Linked DNA regions of Homo sapiens: region 1 is linked to region 2. Evidence: fine-mapped expression QTL. A gene starts in region 2. The other region holds a variant in brackets. All regions are shown on one strand. Distances are between the middles of the regions.

Region 1 (5,377 bases), 55 kb before region 2:
AATTACTAAAATGAATAAAATATATCTCCATCCCTCCCTGATTTGTGTGTCCCTTGGGAGGTGACAGGATATTCTGTCTTCTTGGGCTGAGGAGGCAGCCATCAACCGAATCTTGTCACCCTGACGTCTCAGCTTTCTAATGGCATCAGTATTTCTTTGCTGATCCCCAGACTTGATTTCCAATGAGCAATCTCTGAATTAGTGACAGTAGGAATAGAGTTTAAATGTTTAATATTTCTTTGGCTTTTACTGTACGTCAAACATATGTTAAGTGCTTTTACATGCATTATCCCATTTAATCCTCTATTACTTTACAACAGGAGAAACCAAAAGCCACTTAGCTTGTGGTAGGGCCAAAGCCCATACTTTTAAACCACCACCGTATTCTCTAACCTTCTTTCCCAGGAGAGAAAAGATTGCCGTGCAATCCACTGTTCAAATGCAGTGAAAGCTGAGTGATTAGAAAGCTGCCTTGATGTTGGTGCTACTCAACAATGGTGAGTTCGTGACAGCTTAGAGGCCAGGAGTATACATTTCCTCAAAGGCATTCTTCAAGTTCGTAAAGGAGATAATACAAATTTGTAAAAGTATACATTTTCCTGAATTGGGACAAAACCTATTGAACTTTTTGTTTGTCTATTTTTAGATGGGGTCTTCCTCTGTTACCCAGGCTGGAGTGCAGTGATGGAATCACGGCTCATTGCAGCCTCAAACTCCTGGGCTCATGCAATCCTCCCACCTTAGCGTCCTGAGTAGCTGGGATTACAGGCGCACGCCACCGTGCCTGGCTACATTTTTTTTTTTTTTGTAGAGACAAGGTTTCATGATGTTGCCTAGGCTAGACTTGAACTCCTGGGCTCAAGCAATCTGCCTGCCTCGACCTCCCAGAGTGCTGCATTACAGGTATGAGCTACCGCGCCTGGCCCTATTTTCCCTTTTTTTTTGAGACAGAGTCTCACTCTGTCACCCAGGCTGGAGTGCAGTGGTGCGATCTCCGCCCACTGCAACCTCCGCCTCCTGGGTTCAAGCAATTCTTCTGCCTCAGCCTCTCGAGTAGCTGGGACTACAGGCGCGTGCCACCATGCCTGGTTAATTTTTTTGTGTGTGTATATTTTTAGAAGAGATGAGGTTTCACTGTGTTGGCCAGGCTGGTCTTGAACTTCTGACCTCACATGATCCACCCACCTCGGCCTCCCAAAGTGCTGGGATTATAGGTATGAGCCACTGTGCCCTGCCTACTTTACTTTTTATCCCATTTTCTGTTTGCCCTGAGAATACTCTTGTCTCTGATCCTAATGTAACATCATATCCGTTTTTGTTACATTAGGATTAGAGACAAATTCTGTTTAGAAATAACTCCAAGAACAGTTTTTCTATTTTATTTTCACATTGACAATTAGTCAAATTTGCTTCAGCCTCAAAGAGCATGTTTATGTAAAGCTGGGCACTTGCAGCCAGCTGCACTATTTTTTTTTCTAAATGGGTTAAAAATTAAAAATTATTCACTTCTCATTACAAAAGTAAATCACTTTCTCCATTCCCATGTACCAGTTAATTTCATTTTATGTAAAAATAAAATGCAGGCTGGGTGCAGCGGCTCGCGCCTGTTAATCCTAGCACTTTGGAAGGCCGAGGCGGGTGGATCACTTGAGGTCAGGAGTTTGAAACCAGCCTGGCCAACATGGTGAAACCCCATCTCTACTAAAATACAAAAATTAGCCAGGCGTGGTGGTGTGTGCCTGTAATTCCAGCTACTCAGGAGGCTAAGGCAGGAGAATGGCTTGAATCTGGGAGGTGGAGATTACAGTGAGCTGAGATCATGCCGCTGCACTCCAGCCTGGGCAACAGAGTGAGACTCTGTCTCTAAATAAATAAATAAATACAATACAATACAATAAAAAATAAGATGCAGCTCAAATATCTTAATTTCTTCTGAATTAGCTCTTATGTAAAAAAAAAAGTTTCCTCACCACCGGCCTAAAGGCTCCCCAGTCTCCAGCCTCTCCATCCTCTAACATCTACACCCTCTCAATCCTCAAAAGAGTTCTTCTTCTAAAATGCAAATGTGATTCAGGCACTCTTAGAATTAAAAATTCCCAGTCCCTAAAAATAAAGTCTCAATGTCACCAGCTATTCAATCTCACCTCCTCTTTTAACATCTTCATCTCCAATAATATCCCAGCCACGGCTTTCACAGGCTGATCTCTTCCTGGACCAGCTCATTCTGTTAACCCACTGAGCGCCTAATAAGCCTGGAAAACCCAGCTCAAGAGTCGCCTTCTGTTCCCAAGTGTCCACAGGGCAGAATGAATCACTCATTTTGTGCTGCTGAATCTTTAACATATGTTTACTCTAACACTGAACACAAAATTCCACACTTACTTATCGATAGAACCGTTGCTCCTGTTCTGCAGGGGCTCTCTTACGGGCATATTCTGCCAAGTAATCTCTGTTTACCCATGTCCAGCAGGGTCTTTGGTGCCTGGTAGATGCTTATCAAACTCTTACACAGCTTTATCACTGATTTAAAAAGTGAACCATTGTTTAAACTATGGATTAGCCAAGGCCAAGATGTGGCCATCAATTAGTAATATGCCAAATATCCCACGAGGGTCACCCTCCCCCGGGCTCACCAGTGATGAGTGGGACACAGTCAATTTTACAGAGATTGCATTTTATTTTTTATTTTTATATTTATTTATGTATTTAGAGACAGGTTCTCTCACTCTGTCTCCCAGGCTGGAGTGCAGTGGTGCAATGTCAGCTCAATGCAACCTTTGCCTCCCAGGCTTGAGTGATCGTCCCACCTTGGCCTCCCAAGTAGCTGGGACTACAGGTGTGCACCACCATGCCCGGCTAATTTTTGTATATTTTGTAGAGATGGGGTTTCGCCA[T/G]GTTGCCCAGGCTGGTCTTGAACTCCTGAGCTCAAGCCATCCACCCACCTCAGCCTCCCAAAATGCTGGGATTACAGGCATGAGCCACTGCGCCCAGCCAAGACAGCATTTTAGATCATTCCAAACACTGCTAGGGGAATTTTCGTGAGGCTGAAAGTGAAGGGTTTACCAGAGTACCTGATGAAGGCAAAGGGGAAGTGCTCTTGAATCCAACTGCTCAACTTCACCTCGTATAAGTGAAAACAGAGACTGCAGAACAAGCTTTGGCGCCTCTGGCTGCTCATTAGCATTTACTTCAGCAGCTTCTTCATCATCAACAGCATATGTGACTGCGCTTAGTACTTTTTCTTGCATTAAAGGTGCAATATCTCCTGAAAAAAGTCCTTTAAGAAGTAAAGAAAATGCCTATGTTAGGATCAATTCCCATGATGGTGTAACACATTAAAACAATTACATATAGTTTGATGCCCTGGCTTGCCCAAACTAAAACAGACCTGAACAGGAAGGTAAATGTGTTTATCATATGAAACCACTAAAGAAGTTGAGTCTTTCTGATTAAACTCTGTCTGATAACATCAGAAATACTTCTAGATGCTAGGAGAGTAGCAGGAATTCAGATGCCAGAGCTAATGGCTAGTCAAATGTTTTTCCTAATAAAAAGAAGTAACACAAACTTCTCAAAAATCACTAATAAATAAATGCTTAACTAACAGCTACTGAAATACACCAAATTTTAAACACTGTTATAAATTATAACTTCACCCTTCACTGAAATCTCAGTGTCAGTTTTAATATTCATGTTCAAATTTAATAGACTATCTGCCTATGTGCATACCTTTAGCTAGACTGCCTCAGAAAGGAACTTCTTCAGTAATACCGTGTGTATGCACGACTGAAGCCATCCTCCCTGTAGTGCCCAGAGCCCATAGTGTGTACGCATGACTGAAGCCATCCTCCCTGTAGAGTGTGCCCAGAGCCCGTCGTGTGTATGCACGACTGAAGCCGTCTTCCCTGTAGAGTGTGCCCAGAGCCCATCGTGTGTATGCATGACTGAAGCTGTCCTCCCTGTAGTGTTCCCAGAGCCCATCGTGTGTATGCACCACGACTGAAGCCGTCCTCCCTGTAGTGTTCCCAGAGCCCATCGTGTGTATGCACGACTGAAGCCGTCCTCCCTGTAGAGTGTTCCCAGAGCCCATCGTGTGTATGCACGACTGAAGCCGTCCTCCCTGTAGTGTGCCCAGAGCCCATCGTGTGTATGCACCACGATGAAGCCGTCCTCCCTGTAGTGTTCCCAGAGCCCATCGTGTGTATGCACCACGATGAAGCCGTCCTCCCTGTAGTGTTCCCAGAGCCCATCGTGTGTATGCACGACTGAAGCCGTCCTCCCTGTAGAGTGTGCCCAGAGCCCATCGTGTGTATGCACGACTGAAGCCGTCCTCCCTGTAGAGTGTTCCCAGAGCCCATCGTGTGTATGCACGACTGAAGCCGTCCTCCCTGTAGTGTTCCCAGAGCCCATCGTGTGTATGCACGACTGAAGCCGTCCTCCCTGTAGAGTGTTCCCAGAGCCCATCGTGTGTATGCACCACGATGAAGCCGTCCTCCCTGTAGTGTGCCCAGAGCCCATCGTGTGTATGCACCACGATGAAGCCGTCCTCCCTGTAGTGTTCCCAGAGCCCATCGTGTGTATGCACCACGATGAAGCCGTCCTCCCTGTAGTGTTCCCAGAGCCCATCGTGTGTATGCACGACTGAAGCCGTCCTCCCTGTAGAGTGTGCCCAGAGCCCATCGTGTGTATGCACGACTGAAGCCGTCCTCCCTGTAGAGTGTTCCCAGAGCCCATCGTGTGTATGCACGACTGAAGCCGTCCTCCCTGTAGTGTTCCCAGAGCCCATCGTGTGTATGCACGACTGAAGCCGTCCTCCCTGTAGAGTGTGCCCAGAGCCCATCGTGTGTATGCACCATGACTGAAGCCGTCCTCCCTGTAGAGTGTGCCCAGAGCCCTGCCTTCTACTGCCCTGTAGTTCATATCTTTGGATTTGAATGTGAAACCCACTGCCCTGGCCAGACTGGTCCATTCTTCATCTCCCAAAGTAAAATACTTCCTGCCTTTCTGAGCAATTACAGATCCTAACGGCTAGAATATTTTCCTCCTGTTTAAGCCTATTTATGTTCTACTCTAATAAAATCCACATCTTTCCCTATAACATGAGCTTGAAGTCAAGTTACTTTCCTCTGAACCTGGTATATGGCCTCGTATGACGCTAGGTTGCAGTACAGTAATTGGTTTAAGATGTCATCTTCTATTTCACATCAACGCTGGCAGCACAGGGGTTATTCCAGTGATACCCAGCATGGTGTCTTCAACACTACAATTCCACGTGCTGTGCTTCTTTAAAAAATCACCTACAGTGATTACTTGTATTTTAGAGAATTCTCTTCTAGACACTTTATGTTGCTATACATTTTGGCCATTAGAAGTACAA
Region 2 (5,337 bases):
GAAGAGACTTAGAACTCTCTTCCTGCATAGAAACTTCTCAAATTAAATACCGCAGTACTTCAGGAAGAGGAGTTTTTAATTTACCCCACAGAATCAGACTCTCAGTGTAGGAAGACAGCTTAAAAATCATGTGACCATCCTATCATTTGTGCTGCTCAGTAAGGTAACATTTAGCTACATGTGACTGTTGAGCACTTGAAATGTGGCTTCTCCAAACTGAGATGTGCTGTAAGTATAAAATACCAGATTTTATAGATTTAGTATCAAATAATGTAAAATATCTCATTTTAAAAATTGATTTCATGTTAAAATAACATATATAAGATTAAATAAAATATACTACTAAAATTTTACCTGTTTCTTTTTACTTTCTTAATACCACTACTAGAAAATTTTAAATTACTTATATGGCTTGCATTGTATTTCTATTGAAGACTGCTGCTACAGACCTACAGCCTTAATTCTAACAGCAAGCAAGGACTATCACTTGGCATTTCCCAATTACAGTTGTCATTTAAAAGCCAAAAGAGGCTGGGTGTGGTGGCTCATGCCTGTAATACCAGTGTTTTGGGAGGCTGAGGTGGGAGGATTGCATGAGGCCAGGAATTTGAGACCAGCCTGGGCAACATAGCAAAACTCCGCCTTCACAAATAAATAAATATATTTAAATGTAAAAAGCAAGAAAAAAAGTATTTTAAAGGCGTGGTGGCTCACGCCTGTAATCCCAGCACTTTGAGAGGTGGAGGTCGGAGGATCACCTGAGGTCAAGACCACCCTGGCCAACATGGCGAAACTCCGTCTCTACTAAAAATACAAAAATTAGCTGGACATAGTAGCAGGAGCCTGTAATCCCAGCTACTCGGGAGGCTGAAGCAGGAGAAACTGCTTGAACCCGAAAAGCGGAGGTTGCAGTGAACCGAGATGGCACCAGCCTAGGCGACAGAGTAGACTCCATCTCAAAATTACTTCAAAAAGGCAAAAACAGCATAGGATAGAAAACCACACTTCTTAAGAAAAAAGATGGGAAATACTGCACACTAATCAAGTTTTTCTAATAAAGTATGTCTAAATCCTGATCATAAAGTTCATCTTTAAGGTGAAATCAACATTCTCAGCACCTGGGACCTCAGAAAAAAAATAAGATGTACAAAAATCTCTTATTATTCAAGTACCTTCAATTACAAACAAGTGAACCATCAACACTGTAAAAAGGGAATATTATAATGTAATTCTCTTTCCCAAAACCAAGAGAAAATAATAACACTCAAAAGCAAAATAAAAAATGACATCAGTTTTTCTAGGACTCAGTAGGCTAACTTTGGTCCACAAACATTATGAAATAAGACAGTGCATTTTAAAATAACTGTTTTGTTTTTAACCACAATGTGTTTATTTTTCTTTTTCTCTTTTTCTTTCTTTCTTTTTTTTTAAGGAGACAGAGTCTATGTTGCCCAGTCTGGCTTCGAACTCCCGGCAGCAAGTGATCCTCCCACCTTGGCCTCCCAAAGTGCTGGGATTACAGGCATGAACTACCATACCCAGCCACCACAGTGTTTTTTTTAAAAAGTCAGAAATTCAACGACACATTTCTATGAGTGAACCATGAAGACATAATTCTATTTTATCTGATTTAAAAATATTTAGGACTCCAGGTCCTGGAGGGGGAAAAAAGTGTATTTCTGAATCTATGAAAATGTTTTTTAAGGGGAGAGGGGGAGGCAGCTCAGTAATGGAGAGAGGTTCAGAGGATGCAAAGTCACCTCTAGAAAATTGTCAGTGAGAAAACTGTACGAAAAAAGAATTTAAGCAAATTAAGACCAATGAGTGAGTCCCCACAGTTTGCACAACAGTTGATGAGATATTTTCTATGATGTCCTAACAAATTTATAATACACAAAAGGTCATATTTAGTTGTCAATTCTTTATCCGCTTGAGCTTCATCAGATGAGTATAATCTTCAGACTATTTGCTGGGTGATACATTCCTTAGGAACCTTTTCCTCGTGCATTTAAATGCCAAACTCAATTACACTCTCAGTAGAGTAAGCAGAAAGGATTGTACGTATTCTAAGACACGGAGTTGATTGGCTGCCGTTTCTTGCCTTGGTGGTAAGGATAATGGGTAAAAGCTCTAAGTTTGATCCTGAAACACGGAAAACACTCTCAAAGAACCGTGTCTTCTAACATTGCCCAATAGGTAAAAAAAAAAAGACTGCCAAAATTTCCATTACAGCATCCTATTTTTAGTCTTCAAAATTGGGTCTTTTAAATCGCATTCCACAGTACGATGTGTTTGACTAAGTTTACATAAGGAATACAGTAAGCATCCTAAAGTCTTAATCTTTTTAAGCTTAGAAAGGAATTGTAAGCTTTTACATCTTCATTTTTAATCTTAACTTTAAGTCTTTTAAACACACAAACTGAAAAAATTAAGGAAAATATTGGCCCAGAGAGAGGAATGGAAGGGAGACACCACGCGGTTCTTGACAACCAAAGTGGTAGTGATGGGGGGGACCAGGTGTGGGGGGGAAATGAAAACCATCCACGAGGGTGGGGAGAGCGGGCTGTGGGCCACACAACAGAAAGGAACGGAGACCGTGGAAGCCGCAGGCTCCTCCAGGAGCCGGGTGAGGAACGACTTCTGGCGCTAGTCCCCTAGGGAGGGAGAAATTGGCGCGACGCGCAGCAATAGGAGACCCACAGTAGCTGAGAAAGGAGAGGAAAACAGGCGACCTGAGAGGCGGAGGAGGTAAGGGGACCGGGCTACACCTCACCCGGAGGGCAGAGGCTGCGCGGCTGGAGGAGGACAGCGCAGGGGGAGGAGCGAGAGGCTTCCGAAAGGCTTTCCATCCCGGCCGCGAGCCGGCGGGTCCCCTGCATCCCGCTCCTCCTCTCCTCACCTGGGAATCGGAGGCGCAAGGAGGGCTACCGCTGGGCGCCGGGTCTGTTTCCAGCCCCACTCGGCGACATGGCGGCCGACGTGCTGTCACGGAGCTTGCTCGGGTCTCCCCTGGCTCCGGTGGAGGAGACACCTCTCGCCTTTCCGCCCCGCCTCCCTCTGCGCACCCCTCGCGGCTGGCCGGCTGGAGGCTGGCGGCCCGCGACCGCGGAGCATAGAGCACTGGCGGCTAGAGAGGAAGCGCAGAGCGCGGACAACCATAGAGTACGAGTCCGGACACCAGCCGGATGGTCGGTCGCTCTCCTCAACGGTCCACTCACAATCCTCGGGCGGCTGAGCCGAGGCGGAAGCGGAAGTGAGGGAGAAAAGCAGGAAGGCTCCGCTGTTCGCATGCGCAGGCTCTAGTGTTTACTTCCGCTTGACCTGGCCCGGACGCCAGAAAATGTTCCACGTGGGATACCCTGCGTGGGGTTCACTGTAGTAGCTGCACTAGGTGATTCTTGGAGCGGGCCTGAGAGACAAGGACATGTGGATCCCAGTGGTCGGGCTTCCTCGGCGGCTGAGGCTCTCCGCCTTGGCGGGCGCTGGTCGCTTTTGCATTTTAGGGTCTGAAGCGGCGACGCGAAAGCATTTGCCGGCGAGGAACCACTGTGGGCTCTCTGACTCCTCTCCGCAGCTGTGGCCCGAACCGGATTTCAGGAATCCGCCAAGGAAGGCGTCTAAGGCCAGCTTAGACTTTAAGCGTTACGTAACCGATCGGAGATTGGCTGAGACCCTGGCGCAAATCTATTTGGGAAAACCAAGTAGACCTCCACACCTACTGCTGGAGTGCAATCCAGGTGAGTCCAGCTGAATTGCATTTTCTTGGATGTTCATCATTTATTCAAACGTATTGACCCTCCTCGGGGTGCTATTTTAGATACTGGGGGGTCTTTTTTGTTGTTCTTTTGCTTTGAGACGGAGTCTCGCTGTGTTGCCAGGCTGGAGTGCAGTGGGGCGATCTCGGCTCCCTGCAACCTCCGCGTACCGGGTTCAGGCGATTCTCCTGCCTCAGCCTCCCGAGTAGCAAGAACTACAGGCGCGCGCCACCACGCCCAGCTAATTTTCTTATTTTTACTAGAGACGGGATTTCGCCGTGTTGGCCAGGATGGTCTCGATCTCTTGACCTCGTGATCCTCCCCCCTAGGTCTCCCAAAATGCTGGGATTAGAGGCGTGAGCCACTGCGCCCGTCCAGATACGGGTCTTTGTTTGAAGCTCCTTAGTTGGAGAGATTGCCCACTACATAAGCGTAGAGTCTGTATCGTTAATGACACCACAAAGTATTTCTGTAGCAGCTTGCACTTTACACAATATTTTGATAAAACATGCTCTTAGATCTTATCTCCCCAAAAGAGTTGCAAGCCTCTGCCAGCTGAAAAAATGATGTTATCTTATTCTTCCGTGCATTCCCTATAGACCATAGCAGGATGCTAAGAACACAAGATTTATAGGCTTTTTGAATGATAGTTTTTTAAAGCACCATTTCATATCACAGGGAGTCAGTTCTGTTTAGGCTTGACAATCTCTTTGATGGTTAAAGCATCCGTGTAGTCCGTGAGGAAGTGATAGGCTAGAGGCAATCTATTTTGCTGTGACTTTTTTCTTCTAAGAGGTAGTGAATCATGGTGATGAAGAGTGCAAGTTTTGACCTGGTGCGGTGGCTCACGCCTGTAATCCAGCACTTTCAGAGGCCGAGGCGAGTGGTTCCCTTGAGGTCAGGAGTTCCAGACCAGCCTGGCCAACATGGTGAAACTCCGTCTCTGCTTAAAATACAAAAATTAGCCGGGCGTGGTGGCGGGCGCCTGTAATCCCAGCTACTCGGGAGGCTGAGGCAGGAGAATCGCTTGAACCCAAGAGGCAGAGGTTGCAGTGAGCCGAGATTGCCCCACTGCACTCCAGCCTGGGTGACAGAGTGAGACTTCGTCTCAAAAAAAAAAAAAAAAGAGTGCAGGTTTTGCAGTCGCTGACAATGATTTCAAAGCCAAGCTGCATCACTTTTGACGCTGGAGTCAAATAAGTATATATAATCTCCTGTTTCCTTATATGTAAAAAGGAGAGTGACATCTACTTTGCGGATGCTGTCAGATTTAAAAACCAGGTAATAACGTGTGAAACATCTAATGAAAGTTTGGTATTGAAAGAGATTATGTTTCTTGTACAAATAAACTTTTCGTTCTGTTAATGTGCCAGGTCCTGGAATCCTGACTCAGGCATTACTTGAAGCTGGTGCCAAAGTGGTTGCGCTCGAAAGTGACAAAACTTTTATTCCACATTTGGAGGTATATTTTTAGTTTCTCAACGTATGTTATTGTTTGTTCAACTATCTGTGAGTGGTTTAAGGAAATGGAATTAAGCACACAGTGTTTTACATAGAATATCTTTTAGGGAGCCATCTCTGA

Alleles and levels. Positions count from the first base shown, and alleles are read on the strand shown. Sizes are in standard deviations (SD) of each study's normalised expression.
As copies of G replace T in region 1, the expression in tibial nerve of the gene that starts at base 3,107 in region 2 goes up (small effect, 0.34 SD a copy in GTEx).

Evidence for each region. PIP is the estimated chance that this variant, and not a neighbour inherited with it, causes the effect. A credible set is the group of variants that fine-mapping cannot tell apart.
Region 1: its variant is the best candidate, but not a certain one, in a credible set for the expression of CNST in tibial nerve (GTEx, PIP 0.86).

What each region holds. Positions count from the first base shown.
Region 1 is chr1:246,619,329-246,624,705 of GRCh38, reverse strand. CNST (consortin, connexin sorting protein) reads right to left here. Exons shown (of 11, transcript NM_152609.3): 3 at 3,072-3,277. Among named protein-coding and RNA genes, the nearest start is that of CNST, 56 kb to the right of the region's middle. The variant T/G (reference allele first, on the strand shown) is at 2,895.
Region 2 is chr1:246,564,226-246,569,562 of GRCh38, reverse strand. CNST (consortin, connexin sorting protein) reads right to left here and starts at 3,107. Exons shown (of 11, transcript NM_152609.3): 1 at 2,900-3,107. It overlaps TFB2M (transcription factor B2, mitochondrial), which reads left to right and starts at 3,302. Exons shown (of 8, transcript NM_022366.3): 1 at 3,302-3,737; 2 at 5,129-5,217. The coding sequence starts at 3,425. RefSeq lists enhancers at 2,503-3,002, 3,043-3,102, 3,333-3,612.